Regions from separate parts of the Homo sapiens genome. Here regions 1, 2, 4, 5 and 6 are each reported to be linked to region 3. The links are microRNA targets in miRTarBase. Many come from high-throughput screens and were not tested one by one. Region 3 holds a microRNA gene; each other region holds the end of a gene's coding sequence.
Evidence for each region. Region 3 holds the annotated microRNA hsa-miR-374a-3p (CUUAUCAGAUUGUAUUGUAAUU, at 2,572-2,593, opposite strand). A microRNA usually pairs through its seed, bases 2 to 8, with sites in the 3' UTR of a target mRNA and lowers its output. Matches are read on the target gene's strand: a 7mer-m8 pairs with bases 2 to 8, a 7mer-A1 pairs with bases 2 to 7 and ends in A, and an 8mer does both.

Region 1 (5,072 bases), not on the chromosome of region 3:
AGGGAAACACAGTCTCAAAGAGAGAGAGAGAGAGAGAGAGAGAGAGAGAGAGAGAGTAGGATGCTGGGATTTCCTGATCTTCCTCTTGTTTGTCTGTGTCTGTCTATCTTACTTTTCAGACCTAAAAAAAAGGACAGTGCTGTGAAGCCAGACAGGTGAGTCTTTTGGACTCCAGCTGAGTAGGGGTATGGGGAGTACAAGTGAGTCCAGAAGCTGTTGCTCCTCTTTCTCCTCCCACCCGTCCCCCACTTTCCCTTTTCCTCTGCTCCCCAAGCCTGTGTTCTCTGCCCCGACCCCAGCTCTAGGGAAGACTCTTCCTTCCCACCCCAGACATGTCGCTTCTCCTCCCTAGGGCTGCCACTCCCCACCACCGTCCCCAGCCCCGTTCTGTTCCGGGCTGGGACTCTGCCCCCGGAGCACCCTCCCCAGCTGACATCACCCATCCCACTCCAGCCCCAGGCCCCTCTGCCCACGCTGCACCCAGCACCACCAGCGCCCTGACCCCCGGACCTGCCGCTGCCGCTGCCGACGCCGCAGCTTCCTCCGTTGCCAAGGGCGGGGCTTAGAGCTCAACCCAGACACCTGCAGGTGAGGCGTCTGTGGGGTGGTGTTTGTTTGGGAAGGCACCAAGGCCCTGTCCTGGAGCAGGTCCAGGGTGAGCCTGCCAGTAGGAGGAGGGCCAGGGAAGGGGAAACTGTTGAATGTGTTGAACAAATATTTACCAAACAGCTGCTGGCACCTGGAGCTGTATAAGCAAGTCCAACATTCTAACTCAGGAGTCAGATACAGGAGGGACAATGCCAGCAGAGGATGTCAAGGGCTGTGGTGAGGGGTACCTGGCCTCGTCTTTCAGAGGTCAGAGATCTCTTGGAGGAGGTGACATCTGCCCGGAGTAGAAATGTAGGACACAGCTTTTCCAGCTTGCAGTTCGGGCCTTCCCAGAAGCCCCTGTGGTAGACATCTGCCCTTACCTACGGGCTTCAAGAGGCCAGGGGACATAGTGGAACCCTTGTCCACCCTTACCTGATGTGTTTCTCACCATCCGTGTCCCGCAGTGAGGCCATGGGGTGAAATCATATGGGCAGGGCCAGTGGGGGCTCCCGAGGAGTGTCAGGAGGGGATGACCTTTGCAAAAGGTTCATCCTTCGCCCTGCAGCCTCCAGTGCCCAGGGCCGAGTGGTGTGGCAGGATGCTCAGGTTGTGATCTTAGTGGGCCCGAGGCACACATGAGTCCAGGGCTGGGGCTGCGCTCCAGCCAGCATGAACAGATCACTTCCTCCCTCCTCAGGTGCCGGAAGCTGCGAAGGTGACACATGGCTTTTCAGACTCAGCAGGGTGACTTGCCTCAGAGGCTATATCCCAGTGGGGGAACAAAGAGGAGCCTGGTAAAAAACAGCCAAGCCCCCAAGACCTCAGCCCAGGCAGAAGCTGCTCTAGGACCTGGGCCTCTCAGAGGGCTCTTCTGCCATCCCTTGTCTCCCTGAGGCCATCATCAAACAGGACAGAGTTGGAAGAGGAGACTGGGAGGCAGCAAGAGGGGTCACATACCAGCTCAGGGGAGAATGGAGTACTGTCTCAGTTTCTAACCACTCTGTGCAAGTAAGCATCTTACAACTGGCTCTTCCTCCCCTCACTAAGAAGACCCAAACCTCTGCATAATGGGATTTGGGCTTTGGTACAAGAACTGTGACCCCCAACCCTGATAAAAGAGATGGAAGGAGCTGTCCCTGCCTGTGTCACTGTTTGTCACTGTCCAGGCTGGCTGGTTTGGGCATGAATGTCTGCATCACTAAATCCAGAGCTTGTCTTGCTCCCTCATTGTGCAGATGGAGGAAATGAGGACTAAGGCCCCACAGCAGATCCCAGGCAGGGCCAGAATTATGTATTCATCACTTTCAAGTTATTGCCACGCATGGGAGTCAGGGATAGCCCAGTCAATACAGACTGCCTGCCCTCCTGCTCTTCACCAGGGTTCTTTTCTAGAAGGAGACAGCCTTCTGTGGCCAGAGAGCTTGGGGTAGGACCCAGATCTACTGAGTGACCTTGCTTGTCACTACCCCTGCCTCTCTGAGCAGCAGTTTCCACATGTGCACATAGAGGGAACAGAAGATTGCTGTGGTTGGCGTCCTCGGGCCCCAGAGAAGTTTGAGACTATCTTTACGTAATAGAAAAGAACACTTGTTCTTCCTGCCAGGCAGCGCTTTCAGCATCTGCTGCTTTTTGTTCCCTGCAGCTTGAATCTAAAGCCTCAGCACCTGCCCTGTCTTAACTTCACTCCCACCTCCCTGAAAGGGAAGCACCGCAAGTCTGGGGCTGGTGGGCCTGGTTTGGGCGGCAGGCTCCCCTCAACCCAACCCACAGTTTTTTGTTTTTTTTTTTGTTTTTGGACAGAGTCTCACTCTGTCACCCAGGCTGGAGTGCAATGGCACAATCTCCACTCACTGCAACCTCCATCTCCTGGGTTCAAGCGATTCTCCTGCCTCAGTCTCCCAAGTAGCTAGGATTACAGGTGCCCACCACCATGCCCAGCTAATTTTTGCATTTTTAGTAGAGACGGGTTTCACCATGTTGGCCAGGCTGGTCTCGAACTCCTGACCTTGGGTGAACCACCTGCCTCAGCCTCCCAAAGTGCTGAGATTAGAGGCGTGAGCCACCGCGCCCGCCCAACCCACACAGTTTTCTCCACCCTCGCCTCCCTTGCATCCTGCAGCTTCCTTCATCATCAGTTGCTGCCTGAGATTCTCCTGACTTGTCTATCCTAGCCCAAGCCCAGCCCCTACCCTTCTCCCTGCAGCCTCCAGTGCCCAGGGCTGAGTGGTTTGGGGTGGATGAAAGGCCAACCTTGGGCACCACTGCTTTGCCTGCTGAAGCAGGACATTCAGGGGCAGAGTTAACTCAATTGGGCAGCCACTGGGAGGGGCAGCCACCCTAATGGAGGCTTTCTCTGAGGTGTTGGGTCAGAGCATGTGGGTATGATCTTAGTGGGCCTAAGGCAGGAGTGGGTTGAACCAGGAGACAATTCCTGACAGCGATTACTACTTTCAAATCATTTTCTCAGTCATGATGTCACTGGACATGCCATAGGTCAATTAGCATGAGGCAGAAAGGGGTTAGGGCCCCAGAGCTACCGCCTCCAGAGCCCAGTTAGCCCCACCAGTCACGCACAATGCTTCACATGCACCTCCTCACTTTCTCCTCGCTCGATTCTGAGGTCAGCATCATGATTGTCTTCCTTTTACAATTGAGGAAATAGGCTCAGAAAGGCTAACTGGCCGGGGGGATTTGACCTCAACTCAGCTGTCTCCCTAACCTTCAACCTAGGTTTAGCTGCCTCTCAACTGCAGGTTCATTACTTCAGTTGACAGATGTTTGGTGGCTGCTGGGGCGCCTGAAAATAAGTCTGGTGGGGGAACAGGCCCAGCCAGATCATTCCAGTCATGAGTCACAGCCCAGGTGCACAGGTAGAGGTAAGCCTGGCTCCTGGGAGAGAGATGTGGGCAGGAGCATTGGCTGGAAGCCAGGGCTTGTCATTGGACATCATCTCGGTCCTGCAGGGGCCCTGTGGGGTGGGTGTCATCAAGCCCGTGTTACACGCCTGTATTGGATGACAAATTCTACCAAGCACACAGCCGACCGGGAGTTCAAACGTGAGTGTCACTGTGAAGCCCAGGCTCCACAGCGACTGAGGGCCGTGGGCCATGATGAGGCCCGGGAAAACAGGAGTGCTGTGGGAGAGGCTGGGGGCGACTTGAAATGGCGCCTCAAGACCCCCTCCGGGAACCCACGCCCGCCTGACCTTACTATCACCTCGGCCGGAAGTGTCTCCGGCCTTTTCGGAAGTCACTTTCACCTAACCTTACAGACTACCGCTCCGCCGGAAGTGACGCAGGGCAGCGGCGTCGCGGGGGCGGGGCTCGGGAAAGACCCGTGCCAGCGGGCGTGTGGCCGCGGGTTTCGCACGGTCCAATAAGGGAGGGCGGCGTGGCCCGGCCTGGTAGCGACGAGGACGCGCCTGCGCAGAGGCGGCAGCACCACCGGGGTTGACTCCGGGGGCGCGGCGAGGAGGTGAGCGGGGGCCACAGCCCGGGCTGGGGGGAGCCGGGGTGCAAGAGGGCAGGCTGGATCAGGCCGGGCAGAAGCGGACCGGGCTCCGAGTGTCAACGAGAGCTAGGTGACGAGGAAATTGGGGGTGGGGGCCGGAGCTGTCCGGAGATGCCGCAGGGGGAGGGTTCTCACGCCGCACGGGGCGGAGTCCTGGGACTCGGGGCGGGACGTGGAACCGGGACGGGTGGGACCTCCGAGCTGGTGCCAGTGGAAGGCGGAGCCCGGCGGCGGGGGGCGGAGCTAGGAGGGTCGGGGGACGGAGCCTGGCTCTTGAAGGAGGAGCTGGAGGAGGTGAAAGGCGGAGCCTCGGGGTCGGAAGCAGAGGGGGACGGAGCGGAGGCGCTGGGGGCGGGGCTTCAGCCGGTGAGTGGCGTGGCTACGGCTCCGGAAAAGGGGTCTAGTTCTGTCGAAGGCGGGGCTGCAGGCCCGGGGGCGGTACCGCGTCCTCCGAAGGGCGGTGCCAAGGAGCCAAGTGAGGAGCCTGGCCCGAGTAATGGCCCCGGGCGTCCTCGCGGGGGTGGTCTCCGTGGTGGCCGGGCTTGGGGACGCCGTAGGCCGAGAACTCCACCGGGAGAGGTGGTGTGGGTGGAGCGGGCTCGGCGGCCAGCAGACACAGGGCCAGTCTGGGTGCCCCGGAGACCCCCAAGGGCTCAGAGTTGGGGCGGCGCCCCGGGCGGAAGCACAGGGCCAGGCTGGGGGGTATCTCCCGAGGACCCGGGCTCCTCGGAGCCACCCAGTGGGGATGTGTGGGTGCCTCGGGGCCGGCCCCCTGCAGCGGCCGCAGAGGTGTTGGTGTGCTGGACCGGGGGCAGCTGGGTGTGGCGTGAGTGGGGCCGCCCAGTCGGGGCAACTGCAGTGCAGCCAGATAGGGTCTGGACTTTGCGTAAAGGGACAGGCGGGAACTGAAGAGCGGAGGTGGGGACTGGGAGGGAGGGAAGGTATGGGGGTGAGCAAAGGGGCGGGTCCCT
Region 2 (5,074 bases), not on the chromosome of region 3:
ATCCAATCAGAAGCGCATAGATAAGGCTGAAGTATGCCTTTGGGAGAGCCAAGGCCAGTCCATTTTGGAAGATGAGAAGCTTTTGATTTCCAAGACTCCAGTTCTCCCAGAGAGGGCAAAAGAGGAGAACGGAGGTCAGCCTCGTGCAGCCAATGTGTGTGCTGGGCAGAGCGAAGAACTGCCCCCCAAAGCTGTAGCATCAAAAACAGAGAATGAAAATCTCAACCAAATAGGACACCAGGAAAAAAAGACATCTTCTTCTGAGGAGAATGTGCGTGGCTCCTATAACTCAAGTAATAACTTCCAGCAACCTTTAACATCACGAGCAGAGGTTTGTCCTTGGGAGTTTGAGACCCCAGCTCAACCAAATGCTGGAAGAAGTGTAGCTTTACCTGCCTCTTCTGCTCTAAGTGCAAATAAGATAGCAGGGCCTAGGAAAGAAGAGATCTGGGATAGTTTTAAAGTGTAGCATCTCCAGGAAGAAGAGGAAAAGGAGGGAACCCCGGATTGGATATGAGACAGAAGATATAAGAATCAAATATTCCCAAGGAGGATTTGTCAATCAAGGAAAACATGACAGATGGTGAGGTAAAGTCAAAGGCATGGGTAGAAGAGGACCAGGGGGGCAAGAGCAACAACGTCATAATGGAGAAGTCAGACTTTGGTCAAGAAAGTCCTTCCCTTGGTAACACTAGGAAAATCTTTCCATTTCAGCATGTTTAAGGAAAATAGCCCACAATGTCTGCCCTGATCAATATGTATCCATGGGACTTTGAAGATCCTAAGCCAGGTAAACCAGGAGACACAGAAGACGTACCAGATTTGCAAAGAAAGAAAAGGTATAAGACATATATAACTGAAATTCTAAGTAGCTGACCGAGAAGAACTTACTTTACCTATTTAACCTTGATAGCACTGCTAACTTAATGCATCCCAAAAATATCTTTTATATTAATGATTGCTCTCATTTTCTTATAAATGTATGTTTCAGTATATCGTTGTGTCTCATATTCAAGCATTCCAGATTGTATAATTTTTGCAAATAACTTTGGTATTATGTGACACAACACATTTATGCAATCTGCAGCTATTCAATTGTTATTGCACCTTACAGAATACCTGCTATCTATCAACTTTAGTTGATTCTTGAAGTACAGTAAGCTTTCTCTGGCTTGGGAAGCCATAACTGTTACTATAAAAACTTTTAGTTTTGGCTGTGGTTTATATATTGTGACTTTGAATTTGACTCTATTATTTCACATCATGGTTTGTTATACTGTCTTAATCAGGGTTTTTTATACAAGTTGAGTTACTTGTTTTGCACTTCTTGTTAGGACTCAGAAGCTTTATTAATATTGGAGATCAAGTGGTCCTACTTAGTCATATGTCTCAATAAGTTAAGGACAACTTATCCGTTGTTTATTCAAAGTCAGAGATAGATAACGCCTTCATTCCAATTAATTGTCCCTTTTAACTCTTTCAGTATTTCCTACTTAGCAGCATTTCCAAAGGAAGAAGCTAAGAGTGAGAAAAATATACCGTGCATTATTATTACTATTGGAAAGGGAAGACTCTAGGGATGACATAAGAATTATAGCAGTACTATAAACCCAGGAAGTTTGCCTTTCAAAAAAAAACACAGGTAGCTCCTGATAGCACTTTCAAGGGATTATTTTTTTAAAGAGAAAAATTATGGTAGCATCAAGATCATTGTATGGATATATTTTTATTATGTGTACTGAAAATACAGTATTTTAAAATACCTTAAAGTATTTATTCTCATAAACTCTTATTCATTGCTTCAGCTACAGGTAGAACTTGCTGGGCTCAAATCCCAAAGAGGTTTTATAACCTTATTTATTCAAAACCTATAAGGTGGTATGGAATCTTCATTCTCCCAAGCACTGGAAAATGTCTAAGTCCTGCAAATTGCCATTGTGAGCCACTTGCTCGACATGTAACATGTAAGGTCCATTTGCAAAGCAAAGCAGCCCCCAAAGCATATTTTATAAAGCTTATTGCATTCCACACTGATCTCTTGGCATGGGAATCCTAAGCTGCCGACTAAGCCCTACCGACATGATCATGCAGTGAGATTCCAAAGCTCAGTCTCATTTCATTTAAAGAAGAATCACTCAGAAATAGAACCGAGACTTCCCTTTTTCTCCCTGTAAACACCCAAGTATCAACTGCTTATTTGGCCAGGACACTCCCAGCACAAATAACTATTTTTTATGTCACAAGCAGCAAGGAGGACATGCTAGGGTGATAAAAGATGGAGAAACAGGATCAGAGGGTGGATATAGGGCTGTTCTTAGAGAGTATTTTCAGTGGAAGGTAAAAACAGAATTCTCCATATTCATCATCAAATTTTTCTCAGTGATTTTTTTATTCAGGAGTAAGCAAGCACTTCACTGTTTCACAAAGCTGTGCGCAAATCTTCCTCACCCATTTGCTGACTTTATGCATTACTCAGGTTGGTGGGGTCGGTTTGAGAAGATATAGAAATTCTATTTTTGTGTCTTTACACCATTTATTTCTTTTATCTCTTCCTTTTCAATGAAGGCCTATATGCTTGGTGACCTCCTTTAAGGAATCTTTGTGAACTGGGTTGGAAGTTCCTAGACCCACATATTTGTTTCATTTATGTCTGAAATCTGTTAGCACTTGATTCCTTTCTTGAGAATTATGCAGTCAAGCATCAGTGACTTTCTATTGCACTTCAGGATTGATCCTGCTAGAGATGTGAGTTAAAAAGACTTGCCAAATTATATCTTAGCGACATTCTATAGTTCATAGATTATTCTCCACCAGCATAAATCAGTGAGAGTGCCTAGAGTCTTTCTGAGAGTTTCATTGCCATTATCAACAAGAGAAGTTGAAATTTACAAGTCAGGAGGTTATTTTTCCAGATTGATAACCATAGAAAGTGAATAAACACTTTTAAGGTCGCAAACATTTGCTAGGTTGTCCTTCTCAATGCATGTGCAGGCTGCATCCTGTCCTTGTTTTTAAGCCAGGGTTTATAAATAAGTAGATTTATACCAATCTTAATAGAATTGTATATTTTATGCAAGAATTAAATGCTTTACAACATGAAGTATAACTCAACCCATTGTAAACTTTGGTGGCAATATGGATTTGAAACTCGACAGTTCTCTTGTATTTGCTTCCTAGGTTTCTGCATGCAAGTTATGACAGGTAGGACTGAAAAAACACTGCCTTTTGACTTCTAGCATTTAGCAACCGAGAGTCGTAGAGTCAATAAAGCTGTAAGTGTCTTCACTTAATCTGTGGTTCTCCTAAAACTATTATCTGAAACCTACAGCATCCCACCATGAAATATTTGGTAAATTTATGTTGTGACGTGTTGCAGCATGTAAATAATTATAACTTCTCTGCAATAAAACATATTTATATGAAAGTGATTTGTGGGGATTTGTGTGTTCATCTATAGAAAACTGAATTTATTTTGTCCAACTTTAAAAGAAATTCCATATATTTGTTTGGCTCTGGTATCCTTGTGCACATACATCCTCATATTGCCAGTCTATAGGAATATGTGATTAGCCAAATGTGGCCTCAAACACACAGGTAATCATTTGGAGGCAATCAAAACTATTTGTGGTTTTCATTTAAGAAGTCTCTTCCCAAATGGGAACTAACTCAGCTACCTTTTTTCTTTGCTTGTTTACTCCACACACAGTACCAGGAAATCTGCTAAGGAGTGATGATACAAAGATAAACAACCCCTTCAGGAACACTCAGGCCCATGAGAGTATCCAGTCACTGGTATAACAATATGCAGATGAGCATAACTAAGGTCAGGGAAGTCTCACTAGAGAGTTCAGGGTCACCAGGCCGAAAATCTGCAAAGGCAACAAACAGGTATCAAAGGGAAACTGTTGTAAGGCTGGAGAAGTAACTGAGCACAGACTGCACGCCACGCTTCAGGTTAACTGCAGCTTCATCCTGGAGCACTGGAAGCTATTGGGAAGCTTTTAAAAGTGGCATAATGAAGTCAAAAATTAGATCATTTTGGAAGCAGCCCTGAAATGAACTGAAACGGGAAGGGACTAGAGGCAGCTAAAAACGATTAGTGTGAGAGGCATGATGAGAGAAGATGAGAGCCTAAAGAGGAGATGGAAAGATTCGTGTTTATTTCATCAAAATCACATCTCCAATTGGGTTTACTATTTTATTATAAGCATGTGAAATGGGAAAAATCAGGTTACTTTAGATAACTGTCAAATACAAATTTTTTTCTGAGTTTATTGACATTTTGGCTAATTTCAAAAGCCTCGAAAGCCCTTTCTGAAGACTGGTAGACCTCATATCATCTGTTCACGAGAAAAGCTGATGAACAGGATCCCAGGTTCCTGCTATGGGAAAGCTTGGTACTAAACTGGGCTGGGAAAGATGGCGCTTGGGGCATGTGCAATGTGGACTGAAGTTTCTACCAGCTCAGAAGAGCTCTAGAAAGACAACCAGGCCTGAAAAGAGGGAAGGGGAGAGAGCTGGTCCCCCACCTTATCCCTGCACCCCTCTTTCTTTGGATGAAGCACAGCAACTACCTTTTCCCATCTGCTCATACCATTGCCACTTACAGAATTTTCAGTTATTGCTGGACTTGCCTAGTTGACCTGTGTCTGGCTATATTATTTTTTCATATATATTGTTTCTTTGTTCTAAATTTAGAATCTTTCTGCTAAAAAAATACCTAAGGGAAATCAGAAATAGGCTTTATCACATAAAAACTAATAATGAAAATCTGGTGTCCTAAAACAATGCAAGTTAGTTAAGATTTTCTTATATCAGCATATTCCATCTTTTCCCCCTGAATAGTTGTAAAGACAGCAATCAAGTCTTTCTAATTTGGGTTGTTTTCTCTTTAAACATTTTGATTCTTAGAAAGTACAAGGGCAAAGTTCAAGCATCTTGTGTGTTCTAATTCAGCGTTAACTGGCTAGAAGGCAGATAATGAAATGTATGAATTGGTTTTTAATTTCCCTCTCTTTCCCTGTGATGTGAAAATTGCCAGAAATAAAACTGTCTGATCAAATGAACATGGAAA
Region 3 (5,074 bases):
TGCTCAGAAAACCACCTACCCTAAAGGCAGAGAAGTGAGTAAGGTGCAGGGCAGTATATGACACTGGACCTGGACTTCCATCTTTCCTTCCCCCTACTATTTCCAGTAAACAACAGTGAGCTATAGCCATTTTCTTTCAGAAACAACGTGGATTCTCTCCCTGGGACTCTCATTCCTGCACAGATCTGCTTACACATAGTTGGGCTGTGCTGGTATTCATGCTGACTTAGAAGACAAAAATAAGAATGAAAAGAAGCTTTTTCAGCACCATGATGGGTCAGATACAGATGACATTAACACAGAAGACAGACAGATTTTTAAAACCTATTCAACAAAGATGAGTTACTGTGATAACACAAACAGTCCTGAATCTTATAGTAACATTTCAGTCACAGGCGCATATACAATGGTGGTCCCATAAGATAATAACACCACGTTTTTACTGTACCTTTTCTATGTTAGATATGTTTGGATATACAAATACTTACCACTGTATTCCAAATGCCTACAGTATTCAATACAGCAACATGCTGTACAGGTTTGTAGCCTAGGAGGAATAGGCTATACCATATAGCCTAGGTGTGTAGTAAGCTATACCATCTAGGTTTGTATAAGTACACTCCCCTATGATGTTCACACAACAACAAAATGACTTAATGATCCATTACTCAGAACATATCCTGTCTTTAAGCAACACATGACTGTATAGTTAAATGTTAATTATAAAATCTAGGTGTTGGGTACATGGCTTTTCACCGTACAATTCTTTCAACTTTTCTGTATGTATGTTTGACAACTTTCACAATACAATTTTGGGAAAAATCCAGCAAGCAGCTTTAAAAATATGGCTGTAAGACCTTTCCTTCTATTATATTTTATTCCTAGGATGATCCTATCCAACGAGATGAACCTATTCAGTGTTTCCTCCATTTTGTTTTAGATTTAGCTTTCTCAAATATGACTTTGAGCTCTCCGACTTTTTAATGAAGTGAAATGAATCAACATGTATTCATAGGCAGGTTACCAAGATAGTACATGTAAAGTTGGGGAGGCACAAGGGGAGGGGCTCTAAGCTCTTGGAAGTCTAGGCTCACTATCTGTATACATCTAAATAAATGAGTATTTCAGACACCCCACTTCTTCATTTAAAAATTAGTGTTAGGGACCCTCTAAACATTTGCCTCAGCTTACCTTTCTGCCTTATCTCACATTAAGTCCTTATTTCCCATATTCTCATTGCAAAGAACTGTGTAGGAAGGAGGGGGGCAAGGACGAAGGCACCAAAGCATGCTATGTCCACGTGCTTCAAGTTTGAATATAATAAAAGGTATTTCTAGAGTAGAGGTTCAAAGCTTGATGTTGAAGGGCAGGGTATAACTGACTGACTGCAGGACCCTGGGGGAGGTCTTATAATCTTCTACTTTAAAACATGTCTTAGCTGGCTTATCTGTAAAAGAGGAAAAAGACTTGTCACAAGCAATGACAAATGAAGTAAATAAATATGAATTTCTGGTCTGGTGAATGGAATGAGAAATGAAACCATCACTGTCGAGTGATGATCCAGAGTGGGCACAGATCTTTTTCTACAAAGGCTTTGTGGGCCACAATGTCTCCAATATATTTAATGGCAAAAACAGCAACTACTTTTGCACCAACCTAATAGCTACTTAATTGTGCCACTGGGCCGCAAAAGCGGCCCCAGGTAAAACATCGATGAATGAACATGGCTGTGTTCCAATATAGAATGGTATTTACAAAAACAGGTAGCCCATGGGCAATAAAGTTTGCCCACCCTTGGTTTAGAATATGGAGTCTGGTTGGGTGCAGTGGCTCACACCTGTAATCCCAGCACTCTGGGAGGCTGAGGGAGGTAGATCGCTTGAGTCCAGGAGTTCAAGAACAGCCTGGGCACCATAACGAGACCCCTTCTCTACGAAAAATACAAACATTAGCCAGGGGTGGTGGCACACACCTATAGTCCTAACTCAGAATGCTGAGGTGGAAGATCACCTGAGCCTAGGAGTTCGAGGCTGCAGTGACCCGTGTTCGCACCATTGCACTCCAGCCTGGGCAACAGAGTGAGAACCTGTCCCTTAAAAAAAAAAAAAAAAGAAAGAAAAATGCAAAGTCCTATCTAAGAATACTATTTGGATGATTACCTGGGCCCTGAGGATGAGGCCCCAATCTAACAGTTATCACTCAAGTCCCACCAAGAAAGCAAGTGTCAGCAATAGCAACAGTTGCAACATCTGTAAATATCAAGGACTGAAATCCAAACACAAAAATGGCATTGTCTCATGAGAAACTCTTAGGAAGATATATACAGAAATATCAAATTTCTGACCACATGCTTTTTGAAGAAACAGCTGACAATCCAGAGCCTGTGGAGCTCACTTTAGCAGGCACACAATAAATGTTTGCTGATGAGTCATTCATTTATTCATCTAATAAACATTTACTGAGGCCTACTAATGTGCCAGGCTGGGCTCTGGAGATGAAGACACCTTCCTTGCCCTCAAGGAGCTCACAGTCTAACTGATAACAGGAAGAGAGACAGGCATATACACAGACAATTACAATACAATCTGATAAGTGCTATAACACTTATCAGGTTGTATTATAATGGCCGATGTAAAATTTCTTCCCAGGGGGTGCTGCTCCAGGCTGCTGCTGGCTGTAACATCAAGAGAGGTGAGGAACAAATTATAGAAATCAAAGGTTAAATGCTTTTCGGTTATTTCAAATATTCAGGCTTTCCCTAACCCGTGGCCATAGACGGAATTGGGAACTAGACACTGGCATGATGTAAAATGGGACTTCCATGCACAGACTTCCAATAAAGGAACTTCTCAATCCCCTCCTCTAAAATATGAGCTTTTTTTTTTCCTTTTTGCTTATACTCCTCTTAACCTCCCCACCCTACTACCCACATGAGCCTGGTTTAATATCTACAGCTAGCAAAATGCTGAAAAATGGGAGCTTACAACTAACTGGATTAACCCAGTGTAACCGGATAGCAAAAAGCAGTAAGTAATAGCTCATTTGGCACTTCTAAATCCAATAATCCTCATCCTTCACTGGAAAAAAAAAGTTAGAATGTTATTAAATACAAAATAGATAATATACAGATCAGAGTAGGAATAAGTTAGAAAAGTTTATTTAATAAACATAATTAAACAGATTCTCTAAACTAGAAATAACATTCAGTTTCAGGAAACCAGAATTAGACCCCTCCAAGACCTTTGAGAATATCTAATTCACCTATGTATTATAAACAAGAAAAATGAAACAGAGAGATAACACACTCTGCCCACTCCCTTTTCAAAATCATGTGAGTGATAGTAACAGACTCCTTGAGGCAAGATTATTACTGTAATAGTTATTTGGTTCAGATGGTTTTATACAAAGATAAGATGGCATTTTTCTGTGCCTCATACCTTTCTTAATAATACCTAGGTTTTTACTGGCTTTTTTGTCTCTGACCAGCAAATAGGGCTGATAACATCAGCAAGTTGTTGACAGTTATACTGAGATCACTGTTTTGGGACCCAATGTCTCTATGAGGCTGTTATTTAATAAGCTTAACATACTATTTTCCCCTAAAGTTATTTCACTGCTCTTGCCTATACACTGTTCCTTTCTGCCAATTAGCCCACTCCTGGTGCCTTCTCACATGCTAGCGTGTTCCTATTAGCATTTCACATCCCCAAAGCATTTAACAGTATGTATAAATGTGGACACTTCAATATTGCCCATATCCTCCCTCAGACCACTCAGAAATATTTAAAATAAGACCAGTCCCTGAATGGATGGGGGAGAAGGGACCGCTGTTTTGTTTCTTGTCTAAATTAGTTTCTCATTAGGGACAAAATGTTGCCCTGTCTTCTCCCCATGCCCAGAGCCAGGAAGCACCACTGTTGTACAGTACTCAAAAGTGCTTTCCTTTTAGATAAAAAGAAATGGATTTCTGTTTAAAGGTCAGACAAGGCTGGGTAAGGTGGCTTATGCCTGTAATCCCAGCACTTTGGGAGGCGGAGGCAGAAAGATTGCTTGAGCCCAGGAGTTCGAGACCAGCCTGGGCAAGACCTCCACTCTAAAAATAAAAACAAAAATAAGATAGAGGTCAGACAAATGTTATCTCAAAATGGCTACCAAGAACCAGACATGTATCCACACAGCAGTTATATTTGGAATTGCAAACATTTCTTCAGACTCAATGGCAACAAATATTACTGGGAGCATATCTGCAACAAACGACATTTGCAACTTACAAATAACATTCAGGCACAAATTGAATAATTCACAAAAGGAAATAAGAGCTAGTAATTAAGATCTAAAAGTCCAGCCTCACTAATAATCAGAGAACTGTATCACAAAACAAAGATATCGGCCAGGTATGGTGGCTCACCCCTGTAATCCCAGCATTTTGGGAAGCCGGGGTGGGAAAATCACTTGAGCCCAGGAGTTCAAGACAAGCCTGAGCAACATGGCAAAACTCCATCTCTACAAAAAAATTTAAAAATTAGCTGGACATGGTGGCACACACCTGTACTCCCGCTACTCAGGAGGCTGAGGTAGGAGGATCTCTGGAGCCCTGGAAGTTGAGGCTTCAGTGAGCCATGATCACGCCACTGTACTCCAGCCTAGGCGACAGGGGGAGAGCCTGTCTCAGAAAAAAACAAAAACAAAAAAACCCCACAGAGATATCATTCATTCATTTACATATGGAGTCAGCAAAAAAAAAAAAAGCAAAAACATTTTTTATAAGTACCTAAATGACTGGGTACAAAAACTGACATTAATTTTTTGAAAAGTAAATATGCCAATTCTTTATAATGTTCAAATCTTTTGACAAATAACTAATTCTAGAAGTCTCTTCGATAAACAACCCAAAATAAATAATAAAAACCAAATGAAAAGATATTCATTACATAATTTAAAATACTGAAAATCTGTAAAATACTTCCATACAACAGAACATCATGAAACAATGACAATTACAAAGAATGTTTAACATGGACATGCGCATGTTATAATGTTAAAAACAAAACACAATATAAAATAGTACACATAT
Region 4 (5,074 bases), not on the chromosome of region 3:
AACAGTGGCATTAGGTTGCATTCCCACATCCCTTTTCCCACACATTGTATATAGCACTTTTGGAGAATCATTCTATCACTGTTTTTTAGCTATCTAAACAACATTTATACTCACAGCTTCATATACAGAAATTATATTTCCTTTCCCCCAAAAAGAGTTAAGTAAACTTTCCCAGTTTAACTAGGGTTTAAAAAATTAACCATCACTGTAAGACAACGGACATTCATGAATGTCAGGTGCTCTTGTTTACTTGTTTATCCGCATTAACTAATCCCCTGAAAAGGATGAATGACGCTTCTTAAAAAATTTTCTTTTCATATAAAAATAGAATTTTTTTAAAGATGGGGTCTTGCTATGTTGCCCAGGCTGCTCCCAAACTCCTGGGCTCAAGTGATCCTCCTGACTCAGCCTCCCAAGTAGCTGGAGCTACAGGTGTCTGCCACCAACCACGCCCTTCAGGATGACCCTTCTGAAAGAAATGATGGCAAGATTGTATGAGTACTATCACATTTACTTATACACCAACTTCTTTTAAAAGTAATTTGCAGTGGCATTATACAAAAGTAAACATTTCTATACTCAAAAGTTTGGCTGCTCCTTTGTTCTTTTAGTTAATGCAAGATTTCATTTAGTGCCATAAACTTTACCTAACAGGTTAAAACTTTTAGGTTTGCTCTGATTACTATTTTCCATAGTTACATGTTTTCAAGGGGTAGCCAGGTCTTAAAGTTTGAGTTTTTGTTTCATCAGTCACAATCATACCATCATCTCAAATAAATGGACTTTTTCTAAGTTATAGTATTTAAACCTGAGACACATAGGGAGAATGCCATGTGATGACGGAGGCAGAGACTGGAGTGATGCAGCTACAAGCCAAGGAATGCCAAGGATTGCCAGGAACCACCAGAAGCTAGGAAGAGGCAAGGAAGGATCATCCCCATCGAAGTCCCCAGACAGAGCATGGCTCAGTCATCACCTTGATTTCAGACTTCTGGTCTCCAGAAGTGGATGACAATACATTTCTATTGTCTGAAACCACCTGGTTTGTGGTACTTTGTAATGGCAGCTTAGGAAACTAATATAGATTTTGGCAATTCTTATTTGTCACAGAATAGTCTCAAATCTAGCATTATTATCGATCATCCTGGTTTGTTAGAGTTGAGATGGAAGAGGAACCCCTCTTAAGGGCCTGCCAGGTGCCCCACCAAGCATGGAAATAAAGGAAAATTTTGAGTTCCTTCAAGGGAAATTCCAGGCACCTAGCTAGCCCTATGAATAAATAAGAAACTTGATAAGCAAGAGAGTAATAGTAGCTTAAAACAACAGCCAAGGAAGTCACAGGATGTTTGGTTCCTTATAGAAACTAAAGATAACATCTTAACATATGTCCCTGAGTTGTTCTTCAGACACCTGGACCCCCACCAAATGGTCCACTGGCCAGGGAAGGGGGAACTGAGGACTGAGCTCTGACTGCCATTCTTTGTTCTAAATGTCTTCCTGAGGGGCCTATAGGAAGTCACGCCCATGGGGCAGACTTAGCATTCTTTTCTGCTGACCCCAAGTTTTTTGACAAAGCTTTGATTCCTTAATCAACTGCAAATAAGAAAATCTGTGAATTCACCTATGACCTATAAGTCACCCCCTGCCACCCTCGGCTTCAAGACAGCCCACCTTTCTAGGCCAAACCATTGTGTACTGATGTACAATTCTGCCTGTAATTTATGCTTTCCTGAAATTCACCCCTGCCTTTAAAAACCCTTGCTTGTAAAGCCATGAGGGAAGTTGGGTCTTAAGTGTGAGCTGCCTCATTTTTCTTGTTTGGTGCCCTGCCTGCAGATAAATGCCCTCCTTTTTCCTGCTGCAAAACCTTGCTATGAATGTTTGGCCTAACTGTGCCAGGTGAACAGACTCCAGTTTAGTTCAGTAATATGGTGTGAAGGAGATATTAAAATACAGTAAAAGAGTAATTCATGATTTACCTCCATTGTGATTTTTAAAAAAATAATTCCAAATTTAAATTTAACCATACAGAAAACAAACAAGTTATTTTCAGAAATAAGTTTTCAATGTTTTATCATATTTGATAGCAGCTTTTTTTATTGGTTACAAAACCTAAGCCCATATACAAAATTAGGAACACATTTAGATGCCTCTTTTGAAAGAACGTTTTAGTCTTTTTAAACTGAGTTTAAAAAAAAATAACAATGCAATTTTTAAACACTGTTTTGAAAACTTAAAAGTGCAGCAATATACTTAGTTTCCTTTATCTACGAAATGGTGCAATTCCAATTCAAAACTGGTAAGGTCACAAATTGAATCAAGGAAATGCATACAAGTGTCTGCACTACTTGATGCTAATGTTCACTTAAATGTTAGTTTGCACTTTAAAACATGAGAGGAAATAGGAATCATCACAGTAGAGGCCCAATTTTAATCATAATGTGTGCAAATTTTAAAAGGTAACTGTCAGTTAAGTAAGGAAAGTCCAGAAGAAACTAAACTGGAAGGGGTACGGTTCACAATATCAAGAAGATTTGGACTTTTAAGGGTTTCACCGAAGTTTGTGACCTTAATTAGCTTTTACGTTGTTATTCCTACTTTTAGCGAACACCACACAGTTTCAAAAATTTAGACTATAGTGTCCGAACAGGATGCAGTTACCATATGAAGCTTTAACTCAAAATTTGGATAAAGAAAAAAAGGCACAATGAACTTCAACTCAATTTTATGTGCACAAGAGTTGAAAAATCTGAGCCACCTTAAAGAGAAATTGATTCTAAAATTTATAAAACCTATAAATAATCAGAGGCCAAACCACTATATTAAAACAGATTCTCTAGCAAGTAAAAATCTTGCAGTTTAAACATACGCTTGTATCCACTTTAGATACAAGACAAAACTCACTCTTTAAAGTGGCTCCACCTTGGCAGATACATATATTTGTAATGAATGCACACCTGCTATGTGTTGTTTATCAGTGAAAACACCCCAGCTGATTCACAAAGCTCTGATGGCATCTGTCTCATCTTCATCACAGTAAATACACCCCCCAATGGATAACTAAATTAGTTTAGATTTTCTATCCCTTCACATCAATGCATTGGGAAATTATACCCAGTAAACAAGAGCAACAATACCATTTCTGTGACAGCACAAATTATTTAGTTTAAAAATTTTTAAATCCATATTCTTTCATTAATAACTGGGTCAGACAATTTACCAAAAGCAATAACTTGACATAGTAATACCGGATTTTGCAGAATTACTTAGAGATCACTGCAAATCAGGTTTATGTTAAATAACTGCAAATTACTCCTCTACACAGATCCCTGTCTGAATCTTTTAATATGTGAAGATGCTTTTTGAGTAGGATCTGAATTAACTTTCCCAATACTCAAAGAATGAACTCTTATGACACTTCTAAATAGTTGCTGGTTTGTTGCCAACCACATTATCAAAAGCACTGGTTACTAAGTAAAAAATATTTTAAGACTAAATTACAGTAAACATGAAAGCTCCACAGTTTAAACCCAATATAAATCAACCATATCCAATTATCAAATTAAAACAAAGAATATTAACTCCTGAAAGCTGAAAGCAAGATTTTTTTAAAAAACATCACCAATGGGTATTTTAGACTTTTGCAGTTTTTTTTTGTTTGCTTTTTGTTTTGCTGTTTTTCCTTTATACTCAGGGACTCTTGCTTTCAACTTAAACAGAAGTTCAAGTCCATAACAGGTTGCAGCTCAGGTAAAATACCATGCACAGCATTTGATTACTTCAAAACAGCAGGAACACACAGGCTGAAGAGAGTGGTCAAATAGGGCTTGCTGTTCTCAAAAATTAGGTATAATGGCAAAAGCATTAATATCCATATCTAAAGTTCTTCCTCCAACCCTGGCTTCTGAGGCAGATAATAAACACATCAATTACTGGTAGATGAAGTAGTTTTTTTTTTTTTTTAAACTTATCTGTTTATTCAATAACCAAGTTTCTTGTTTTTAAGTTACTTTTTTTGTGTCAGTTCCACCAATGAAAATCATTTGGCTTGTACTTTAAAATCTATTCTTCCACATAAAGAATATGAAAATATGTTTGTGGAGGACAATGATGGAGGCTCAGATCACACTGCACCTCTTTAGTCTTCCAACTTGTATATGCATCATACCAAAGTGTCTTGATCCACAGCGCACCATTTTCCAAAGGAGTATCAGTGGGCAGCTGACATGTCACCACTATGGAATATTTATTCTAAACTGGAGACTGCAGTTGTCAGCCTGTGGCACCAGGGAACAGGGAAAAATAGGGTAGTTGAGATTGTTAAGGAGAGTTCTAAAACAGTTTAGGAAATCATGCATATGCATTTACAGTCCATGTGATAGTGACTTTTGGCAACTGCAAAGTGACTGAGACATGGCTTGCTTTAGAAGCATCAAAACAAAGAGGCATGTGTGTTTTGGAGCCTTTTGTTGCTGTTGTTCTTATCATTTGGTAGCCATCTGGTGGTGCTTCATATTGAATGTGGGAAAGATGCTGCACTCAACTGAATTTAAAAATTAAATTCTTTTGTTTGAAGGTTGGCTGTTGGATCAAAATTGTAGGTACCTCCTTGTGTTGCTTCAGGAATGAGGCAGGGATCTTCATCAATCTGTAAAAAACAAGAAAAAAATCCTTATTAGGTTATGATACTATACATTATGATGTAAGTGGAATTGACTTTTTACCTCTTAGCAAATAATTCTATGTGAATGCTTTAACCAACTAAAAATATTCGAGTAAATCAATAATTTTATTAAGAAATTTAACAATTTAAAATTTAACACGTTTCGAAACTGCATTGTTAAGTTTCTGTATCTGGGACCTAGATTTATTTAACCTATCTGAACATATATCACTTATATAATTACTATTTCTTCCTAGTTAATAGATTAGAAATGAAACAAGAACTGTTTTTACAACTTTACCTTATAATGAAGTTTCAAAGTATTTAAGAGAAAGTGACTGATGGAATGTCTAATAGAAATACAGTACAAACTTATGTCATCCTAATAATAAAAGGAAAACTCTTAGTAAA
Region 5 (5,074 bases), not on the chromosome of region 3:
TTTTTCTAAAAATAGAGCCATGCCTGTCCTATCTGCTTCACAGAATTGCTAATAAGATTTAGATTAAATGAAATTACAGATGGGAAAGCTGAAAAATATGTATGAATATTAGTTTTGTAAAAGGTTTATCCTACAAAAAGGGTTTCTGCTCTTTGTCCCTTGCCCTCTGGACTCATAAGTCTTCTGTTCTTTTCTCCAGGTTACCTGTGCATGACAGATGAGTGGTTCTCTGAGTATGTCTACGAAGTGGTGGTGGACAGGAAGCATGTCCCTGAAGAGGTGCTAGCTGTGTTAGAGCAGGAACCCATTATCCTGCCAGCATGGGACCCCATGGGAGCTTTGGCTGAGTGATACTGCCCTCCAGCTCTTTCCTCCTTCCATGGAACCTGACGTAGCTGCAAAGGACAGATCCAGGGACTGAAGCCAAAGTTATGCAAGGGACTGTGTGTTGCCACAGGACACAGTCAGATTTCCAGTCTCCACCAGGAACCTCTTCAGAAAGTGTGCTTTATGCTGAAACAGAATACTGTTAAAGGAAAAAAAAGAGGGGGGAAGATCAGGTCATACTATCTACTCTCCTCATCTCTAACAGCTCAGGATCTCTTAGCATTTTAATTAGATGTAATTGTTTGTCTTTAACTGTCAAAAAGTTTGGTTCTGTGTCTGTGTTTTAATAAGACGAGAGGACGAGCGATTGAGGTGTATGGAGAGAAAACAGACCTAATGCTCCTTGTTCCTAGAGTAGAGTGGAGGGAGGGTGGCCTAAGAGTTGAGCTCTCGGAACTGCATGCTGCTGGACAGTATCACTGTCTTTCCTAGATGGCAGTCACTGAATTCCATTTTTTCAAGGTAATTTCTTGTGCCTCTAATAGCCCAAGAATGGGAGGTTGATCAGATCTGACATGATTCCTTCCTGTTCTGAACTGTGGGGTGTGCACATCTCTGCTTGAGTCAGGTTTGAGTAGAGGCTTAGAGACAGTTGGGTGAGAACAACCAAAATCTTATCATGGTCTCAGTCATAATCATTAGGGGGAACTCTAGCCAAATGGTTTAACTTCTGCCTGTGGAACTGGGGATTGGGTGGGCAGGAAAAGGTGATATCCATTCTTTCTGATAACTAGATGGTGCTGAGAAGCTTTTGAATAAAAACTTTGCTAAATGAGAATAAGCTGATTTATGTGATCTGTCTGAGAAGTGTTTGTTTATCTACAAAAGAAAGCAGCCAGGTGGCTCATGTTCTTGAAAGTGAAAAAACAGGAAAAGGGCTTCCCTCTTCAGCTTCTCTGCAAGATGTGTACTCTTTCCCAGACCGCCGATTCTCACCGGCATCTGCAAAGGGCTTCCAAGCGCCTGTTTAAGAAGGACTGTTCCCCTACCGCATAAATGTTCTACCCAGATCCAGGGTCCCTACAAGGGTGGGGAGTGAGGCTCTGTTGGGCCCAGCCTTAGAATAGGTCAGTAAGTTATCTTACTGAGATTGGGCCACCCTTTCAAGAACAAGGGTAAAATAGAAAACATTTTCACAAAAAAAACTGAATTTGCCCCAACAGAAGGGAAGTGATCAGTATGGAAGGGTTGAAATGTATCAAGGAATGTAGAATAAAGAACATGATTGTTATGTTGGTCAGCTACACAAAAAGCAACTGTAGAAGAGTCTTAACAGGGTTGGAAAAAAGGTAAAACGAAAATCCATGAAGGTAGCAGATAACTAGGGAGGGGAGGTAATTGGAATGAACATACTCTAAGATCCTTGTGTCTTTCAGGAAGAAGATAAATACATTGTTTAACTTCAGACTTTGGTATGTAAACCTGTGCCAAAAACTTCTATAGTATCTACTAAAAATAAGCAGAGGATACAGTTTTCAATCAAGAATAAATAGAATGGAAAAATGCAATCAGTCAAGAAGACAAGATAGGGTAAAGAAAAGGCAGGACAAATAGAGCATCCAAAACAAGATAGTAGAGAGAAATCTAAATGTGCCAATAATTATATGTAAATGGACTAAATGTTCCCGAAAAAAAAAATGCCAAACTGTATTTTTAAAAGAAATCCAGCCATATGTGATGACAAGAGAGAGACATAGGCAACCTACAATATAAGAAAGGATGGAAAAGATACATCAGGCAGATACTAACCAAAATAAAACTGAGAAGTTATACTCATAACCCACAGAATTAAGGCCACTCCAAAGTAACGAAACAGACTGTCTAATTTCAGTTTATTTGCATAAACTGTAATGTGAATGTCCTCCCTGGAGCTGTGGAACACCACAGCCCTGGAAATAGGCTTTAAGACAAAAAGCATTACTACAGATCGAACCACTACATAATGATATGCTTACCCAATTCTTCAGAAAAACAAAGATTCTAAGTTATGCACCTAATAACATTGCCTCAAAATATGTAAAACAAAAACAGCTATATGGAAAAATAAGAAATCCAGCATCATAGTGGGAGATTTTAATATGCTTCATGTAGACCAAGCAACAAAAAATTCAGGAAAGTATATAAGAGATTTAAACATTTAGCAAGTTTGGTAAAATGGACGTGTTTAGAAGACCACATCTTCATCCTGAAAGCACAGATGTGTGGAAACCAATGACCGAGCATAAACCTGTTAAAAAAAAAATTGCATCTAACAACTGCACATTCATTTTGATCACCTATGGAACTTTTTCAAAAAGCGACCATATACTGGACGGTAGAGTCAATCTCAACAAATTTGAAAGGGTTGTTACCACGTAGACCACACTCCAACCACAGTGCAATTAAGTTAGAAACCAAAATTAAAAGATTACAAGACGACCTCTGTATGTTTAGAAATTAACTCATGGGTCCAAGAAGAAATCATGAAGGAAATTTAACCTGAACAATAATAAAAATATGTCAAAACGAGGGATGCAGCTGCAACAGTAATTTAAAGGTTTTACAGCATTAAATTATTACATTAATGTATTAAGATTATAGAATTTTAATTAGTTCTGAATAATAGAATGTAAATTCTAAATCTAAATATCAAAGTTATACTAGGATGTAATAAAGGCTGAAAATTGAGCTAAACATCTGTTTCAAGAAATTAGAACAGCAAAATAAACCTAAAGGAAGTAGATATGCACAGAAATTAAGCATAGCATCAACGAAGCCAGAAGTTGGTTCTTTTAAAGAAAAATTGACAAATATTAATTTTTTTAAGTACACAGGGAATTAAAAGGATATTATAGATGCTGCAAATATTAGAAAAATAGAAGATACTCTCAACTTTCTCAAAAGCAACAGTAAAGGGATTTGTTTAGAAGACAAATCCACAAGCTCGGGAAGACCAGGAGAGGAGCCAATGAAATATTTGAACCCAGAAAGCAGATGGAGACCTTGGAAGATTTAGCAGAGCTGAAAAAGTTGAATCTCACTGAGCCAGTGGTGGAGAAAGCCAGTGATAAGCAAATCAATTTACAGTGCATAATCCCCTGAAAAGCATAGATATGGTAGCAACAGAAAGCATTCTGGAATTGGGCGTGAAGGGAGGGTTACCAAAGAGTTGAATGTCTGTTGGGTCCCCTTCCTATACCGACCGGCTTGGTGATGCCCTTCCTCCATTCATCAGTGCATTAGAGATTTCTTTTCTGGAGAGAGAAGAAGTGTGTAGTCTAGGTGTCAGGTGAATCCCCTAAGTGAGCATTTACATTCTGAATCTTCTTGCCATCCTTGGCTGCTAGAACTCTAGTAGCCAGGAAATTGGAAGTCTTCTCAGGAGCAACTCGATTAGCTCAATAGGCAAGACGTAAAAAACGACTTTATGGCCTAAAGAATGATTTTATGAGGCTAGCATAACCCTGATAAGGATAGTGAAAAAAATACATGTAAACCTCACCCATAAACATAGATGCAAAAATCCTAAACCAAATGCAGCAATATGTAAAAAAGATAATCTTCATTACCAAATACTTAATGAAAGCCATTTTTCAAATGAACTTAGGATCCAGAGGGGAGAAATGAAGCATGGTGGTTTTATCTTCTCTGCTAAAGATTAGGGAAATGGGCTGAAGTTGTAGCTGGAGGTCTCAGTTGGAAGAAACTGCTAGTATTTGGGTGACGAATGAGGTAGGAAATGGGAAGGCATGGAGTTGTCTTTTGCTTTAACTGTGAATCATACAGTGTCACCAGAGGAGAGCTTCATGACTGGCCTCTGGGAAGTCCTGGCCTGAGTAATGGTGACCCTACACGTCCAAGAAGCCAAGGCATGATAATGAGACATGCCTTCAGGATGTGGTGTGGCCCATCTGCTTGCTTTGGCTTGTCCTTAAAGAGCAGCTTAATTCTAAGTTGCTGTTGGTGGCACCAGGGCACTTGGACTTGAAGTCCTATTCCTCTAGTGTGGTGTGGGTGAGCACCATTGCCCACGGTGGCTCTAGTTAGTCATTTGTTAAGTTAGATACTTTTTAAAGTGATTCCAGATGAGCGTGGTCATATTTAGGACAACTTGTTGAGAACTGTTGTTGATACTCATGAAGCCAATGGCTTCCTTCTTGGGGTCTGTGACACAAATGGGTTGAAAACTAGGATTAAACTGGCCGGGTTTTTCTGTTTTTCTTTTTCAAACTCCAAGTCCTTTACACATTATTGCAGAGGGAAAGGAAATAGGGGAATGTTCAATTCACAACAGCTGCAGCTATTTGGTCTTTGTTTTGTCTTTTCTTTTGAGTCTCATTCTGTCACCCAAGCTGGAGTGCAGAGTACAGTGGCACGATCTCGGCTCACTGCAGCCTCCACTTCGTGGGTTCAAGCAATTCTCCCACCTTAGCCTCCAGAGTAGCTGGGATTACAGACATGCGCCACCACAGCTAATTTTTTTTTTTTTTTTGTATTTTTAGTATAGACAAGGTTTTGCCATGTTGGCCAGGCTGGTCTTGAACTCCTGGCCTCAATTGATCTGCCCGCCTAGGCCTCCCAAAGTGCTGGTATTACAAGTGTGAGCCACTGCGTCTGGCTAGCTGTAGCTATTTGGAAAGAGGATTGTGTGCAGATGGGAAACCCTCCACATCATCTTTCCTGGATATTGTTTGAATACTCAGTGCTT
Region 6 (5,074 bases), not on the chromosome of region 3:
AGATTGGCCTTAGGTATTTGGAATTCAGAATTTTCTATTCTTATGCTATATTTTATCTTCAACTCTTATATTTAATTTTTATTTCAGCAATCACTTTTTAAATTTCTGAGATCTTTTTTATTGCTTGTTCTTTTTCACACTCTCCTATTCTTGTTTTGTGAATATAATATACTCTTATTTTGAAGACAGTTTTTTTTTTGTTGCCATTATTCTCCGTTTGTCTATTTCCTTTGGATTTTCTCCCCTCCTTTTCCCCTTTTATATTTGAAGGATTTCACCAAGTGTCTAGTGATGTTTGGCTCTTATGTATGGGTGGTGATTTTTGGCTGGTGGCCTTCAATGTAGGGTCAGTAAGTGTTTGGTTAAAGTTTTCACTAGGGTCTTTTAATTGTCAGTATTTGGAGATAAAAAGTTGCTATAATTAATGCTTCCAGTAACATGGAAGACAAAAAATATACCTAATGCATTCATGGTATTTGGTGATGTTTCGAGGCTCTTAGGTACCTTATCTATTGTACTTAATAACAGTCAGCTTATTCTGTCAAAATGAGAAATGTAAGAAACAGACAAGCTCAAAATTAAGGCAATGGGTATGGAAATGGAACTGAAATGAAATACATAACCTAGGATATGCAGAACTAGAAAATAAAATTGTTTCTCATCAAATAAAATGTGATCATTAAAAACAGCCTAGTACAAAGACCAAATCAAGGGACTGCCATTAACATGGCCTCAAAGAAAAGAACAAATAAAAGGTGTGGCCATTTACTCCTTTTTAAGACTTCTGAAGGGATTTAGGGGGACCTTCAGGATGAACCAAAGGGCTCCTAGAAAGATTAGAGGAATGAGACACTTGATATGCTTAAGATATACATGTTTCTACAAATGAAGTCATGAGTACTTTGAGAATCTCCGGCTGACCTAGTTAGTCACTGCTTCTCTAAATCTCTTCTGCTGCAGCCTTCCAGACCTTTATTACCCCAGTAATTCTCACATTGGGGTAAACCTTAATTTCTTTACTAAACTTCTTTATTCATGTAATACTTGTAACGATGCTGCTTTTCTAACTAAATCCAGACTAAAACACCTGACTTCCCTAGAAAAAGAGACCCTAAAGGAAATATATCCACTACTTTATTAAAGGTACAATCCAGGCTGGTAAGAGCGAGGAAGAAAGGAAGTGAGGCTGGCAATAATGGGAGGCAAATGCAAACTGATAAATTACTGTGTAGCACTTGCTGCTGTTTCATGAAAAGCCATGAAGAGACACTGCCAATCATGTGGCAAGTACACTTGCTTGGCCACAGAGTACGCTTCTGGACAGGCAAGATGAAAAACAGTGTCTCTATACAGTCCATCAGAAGAAGAGCAATTTACCCAGCAGCTTTTTCTAGTCCATTGATCCAAGTTTTTCAGACAGTTAACTTCACAAACCTACCAGACTACATCGCCTAGCCCTTTTAACAGTCATTGTGGCATGGGGTTTTTAAAGCACAGAAGTGTTGTTATAGGCCAGGGATTCTGAACATATGGCTAATTGATCTCAAGCAGAGGAATCATACAAACCTGCTGGTAATCTGTTACTATATGAGGTGGTAGCTAAGGCAAAGCAAGTGGTCAAGAGCCCAAGAAACATGAGACTGAGAATCTTCTAAGGTACTTGAAGAAGATGATCTGATAATGCATCCAAAGATGAGATATCTATAGCCACAATAAATAGCTATAAGACATTGGTGGCATAATAGACATTCCTTGCTCACATGTTTGGAATCAGGTAGGTGTCAGTTAGATGACTCTGCTGATCTTGGCTGGAATCATTCACATATCTTGGGTTTGGCTGGCCATCAGCCAATCTAGACAAGATTCAGTGAGGGTGACCAGGGCAACCTGGCTCTGTTCCATGGAGTCTCATGCTCCAGCAGGCTAACTCAGCCATGCATATTCTTATGTCAACAGCAGAAGCACAAGTGTAAGTAAAAATGCACTAAATCTCTGAATGCAGATGACCCAGAATCACAGTGGGGGGAGTACTTCAAAGGAACCTGAAAAATGACCATGAATACAAGCAAGGATAAAGAATTAGGGCCACTGTTACATCTATCACACCAAAAAAACAAAAAACAAAAAACAAACAAAAAAAACTAAGACAAGTATAGTCAATTCATTGTTCTAATAGGTATTACTAACTTCTTTTGAAAAGAACCTGAGATTTTATCTGGCCTTAGCTGTAAATTAGGCTCTTATGAAGTACGTGGGTCATCTTTCTTATGCCAGCTGAGAGATGGAGGCAAATGAGTGATAGAATTGTTCTCTGTCTCTCGCTTTTTTTTTTCTTTTCCCTCTGAACTGTTATGTTTAGTTGGTTTGTAAAGCCAGTTAAATGCAATAGATTTTGGCTCAGGGAAGTCCAAATTTAGCCTAGAGAAATCCAACTTTGGCCCTGCTTAAATCAATTCAAGCCTTCCTCTATTCCCAGGGCCAAGTTCTAAACATGAAAAAAAAAATCTATTTTAATTCCATTCTTGTAGAATAACTGCTAAAATAAGCAAGCCAGTTAGTTTATTTGGCTAAGACTGTAAGACTAATAATGTTCAAGCCTTATATAATCCACATTCCTTTTTATGAATAGCATAATATAATGGTGACCTTACTGAACCAAACCAAATCAGAAGTTCCAGATTCTAGAACAGGCTCTGCTACTAACTAGGTGTATGATCTATCAATAATTTACTTACCTCTTTAATTCTCAGTTGCCCCATGTATATTAATAGGAATTGTTCTTAATTACAATACTCCAAACGTCCTATTTCCATGGCATGTTAATAGGTGCTACATATTCAAGTAAGTTTAAGATATATCAGCTTAAATAAAGTTCAAAATGTTTATTTCAGGACTTTTCAGAACCTTTAATATGTTTTGCCTTCTGAATCCCTGGGAGGGAAACAACGTAATGTACAGCAAACTAATTTCACCAAGAACTCTTTCCCCCATAAAACATCATGTGTCCCACTGTATATACTTCAGGAAATGTGCTATTATTTCACCCAAACAGGTGAATTTATCAGAGTCCCCAAAAGAAATAGAAGGCTATTTCAAGTGGGGACATTTGAGAAGAGTGTAATAAAACAACTACAGTATTTACAAATGTATGAGCAGGGTTTAGGTAAAGCAACAAGTTGTAGTGAACTATACTGGGGCTAGTAATAACTGTAAGCTATTACCAACCCTAAGTGAAAAGGGGTAAAGGGAGGGAGCAGGAACTAAACCTAGTGAGGTAACTGGGGTAACTGCTTGGGAACAGAAGAGATAGGATTCCTGATAAGGTACTATTTAGTAGAGGAACACAGCCAACTGATGATGACATGGCAGGAAAGGAGCCAGGGAAATAAATAACATCATTTCATTTTCCTCTCAACTTCTAATCTCCCACTGGTGCTTCCCATTTGTTGAACCCAACCAAAAGCAAGAGAGCAAAGGAACCTACCTCACAGAGCAGGGAGCAGAATAGAAAAGAGCAGACAGAAGCTATTCAGCACAGTAGGGCTCTATTCACAAGCAGCTAGGTCTAGGTAAATAAATGATGTCATCAGGACTCAGTCTCTCTTTTTCTCTCCACTCTGCTTTCCTTCGCTGACTTCATTCTAAGTCAGGCTCTTTTCACCTGGCAGCAGAGATGGCCACTAGCAGGTAGGCTTCAATTATTATCAGTTCACAATTCCAAATAAAATAAAAAGAGTAAACATATATGTAACACTTACTATATTTCAGGTACTGCTGAAAGCCCCTTAGATATTAACTCAGTTATTCCTATAAGGTAGTTGCTCAGTATTGCCTGCTTTGTACAAATGGAAGAAAATGACATGGCTGATAAGCAGAAAGGCTGAGATTTAGATTCAGGTAGTCTAGCTCCAGAGTCTCTGCTTTTAACAACCTTAGGACTTAAAGAAACAGCCCTAGATACCAGAATTCTAATTCTAGTTCTGCCTATGTTTGCTACTAACCTCAAGAAAAATCACTTATGACCTATTTTTCAGCCAGCAGATTGTAACCCCATTTACTTCTAAAGGTGGTCATGAGTACAGGTGAAAAGATATAAAGATGTTGAAATAAATAGCTAATTAGATCTAATGGAATATGTTATATCTAATCACAGAGACATAACACACTATATTAAAATGTAGTAATGAAACTGAGGTTTCACTGAGCAAATAACTTCTGAAGTAAGTTTTTCAATCAACAGTATCTCTGAAAAATTCCCCCAGATACAATTTCCTTCAAGAAATATGAAGTGATATATATGAAACTGGAATTTTTTCAAATGGTCTTACAGGCATTATATATGATTATTTCTTAAGAAAAAACAAAGCACAAATATAAGTTTATTAATGTTAGCAAAATAAAAAGACATAAGTGGCTTGTTAAAAACTAATGTGTAAGTTTTCCTGTTTCCTTATCTCCAGAGCATTTGGCATTCTTTATCAACTGGTACATAAAAGAATAGAAAAATAAAAGATTGTCATATTGCCCTCTGTATTTCTCTTTTAATATATCAGTATGGTAGTCTACCAGAAAGTAGTAAATGGCTTCAATTGTAGAAAGGAAAGTATCTGGCTTTCCTTTTTGATGGCGCCAAAAGCAAGTTTTTCTTGTTTTCAACTCAACTTGTAACAACCCTGTCAAAAAAAAAAAAAAAAAAAGAAAGAAAGAAAGAAAAAATATAAATATTTCTTCTTAACCACAGGCTTGGTACAATAATAATGATTTCTCTTAATTATTCTAAGAATTTTTTTTTAAAGACTGCAGATAACTTCCTTCAATCCCAGTTTGAAACAAGATATTTTCTTAAACACCTCAAGGTATATACAGAAGCAACATAAAACAAATAATAAAATCTTATACATGACAGTTAACACTGAGTCTTAGACCAATGAATTAAAAGTAGTTAACATTTAAGATATTCATGTCTTCCAATCTTCTATGTATCAGCATCTTCAAAAATCTAAATCTCTGACAGGACTGCATTCACCAATTTTCAGAAGGGTTTCATTTCCTTGACAAACTGACTTTTTTGTTT

Region 1: the mRNA of VEGFB is a reported target of hsa-miR-374a-3p. Seed matches in the 3' UTR shown: 8mer at 1,700-1,707.
Region 2: the mRNA of GPR158 is a reported target of hsa-miR-374a-3p. Seed matches in the 3' UTR shown: 7mer-A1 at 2,267-2,273.
Region 4: the mRNA of KPNA3 is a reported target of hsa-miR-374a-3p. Seed matches in the 3' UTR shown: 8mer at 2,971-2,978 and 7mer-A1 at 2,071-2,077.
Region 5: the mRNA of BLMH is a reported target of hsa-miR-374a-3p. Seed matches in the 3' UTR shown: 7mer-m8 at 1,111-1,117.
Region 6: miRTarBase lists DTWD1 as a target of hsa-miR-374a-3p. Seed matches in the 3' UTR shown: 7mer-m8 at 3,702-3,708 and 8mer at 3,058-3,065.

What each region holds. Positions count from the first base shown.
Region 1 is chr11:64,237,068-64,242,139 of GRCh38, forward strand. It overlaps VEGFB (vascular endothelial growth factor B), which reads left to right. Exons shown (of 7, transcript NM_003377.5): 5 at 120-155; 6 at 353-588; 7 at 1,289-2,197. The coding sequence ends at 566. FKBP2 (FKBP prolyl isomerase 2) reads left to right here and starts at 4,028. Exons shown (of 6, transcript NM_004470.4): 1 at 4,028-4,065. LOC114841035 reads left to right here and starts at 4,028. Exons shown (of 6, transcript NM_001370414.1): 1 at 4,028-5,072. The coding sequence starts at 4,213. The coding sequence ends at 5,010. RefSeq lists enhancers at 3,035-3,937, 3,437-3,496, 3,537-3,656, 3,938-4,838 and silencers at 3,937-4,956, 4,987-5,072.
Region 2 is chr10:25,598,806-25,603,879 of GRCh38, forward strand. GPR158 (G protein-coupled receptor 158) reads left to right here. Exons shown (of 11, transcript NM_020752.3): 11 at 1-3,424. The coding sequence ends at 469. Among named protein-coding and RNA genes, the nearest start is that of LINC00836, 50 kb to the right of the region's middle.
Region 3 is chrX:74,284,724-74,289,797 of GRCh38, forward strand. MIR374A (microRNA 374a) reads right to left here and starts at 2,634; the gene lies at 2,563-2,634. All of the region lies in intron 1 of FTX (FTX transcript, XIST regulator), which reads right to left. It overlaps MIR545 (microRNA 545), which reads right to left and starts at 2,486; the gene lies at 2,381-2,486. LOC124905199 (a long non-coding RNA gene) reads right to left here. Exons shown (of 2, transcript XR_007068266.1): 2 at 3,142-5,074.
Region 4 is chr13:49,697,251-49,702,324 of GRCh38, forward strand. KPNA3 (karyopherin subunit alpha 3) reads right to left here. Exons shown (of 17, transcript NM_002267.4): 17 at 2,070-4,648. The coding sequence ends at 4,550. Among named protein-coding and RNA genes, the nearest start is that of EBPL, 8.3 kb to the left of the region's middle.
Region 5 is chr17:30,244,294-30,249,367 of GRCh38, reverse strand. BLMH (bleomycin hydrolase) reads left to right here. Exons shown (of 12, transcript NM_000386.4): 12 at 200-1,165. The coding sequence ends at 351. The region is part of intron 2 of LOC105371720 (a long non-coding RNA gene); the gene reads right to left. Among named protein-coding and RNA genes, the nearest start is that of SLC6A4, 11 kb to the right of the region's middle. RefSeq lists an enhancer at 1-911.
Region 6 is chr15:49,642,930-49,648,003 of GRCh38, reverse strand. It overlaps DTWD1 (DTW motif tRNA-uridine aminocarboxypropyltransferase 1), which reads right to left. Exons shown (of 5, transcript NM_001144955.2): 5 at 1-4,673. The coding sequence ends at 4,426. Among named protein-coding and RNA genes, the nearest start is that of DTWD1, 24 kb to the right of the region's middle.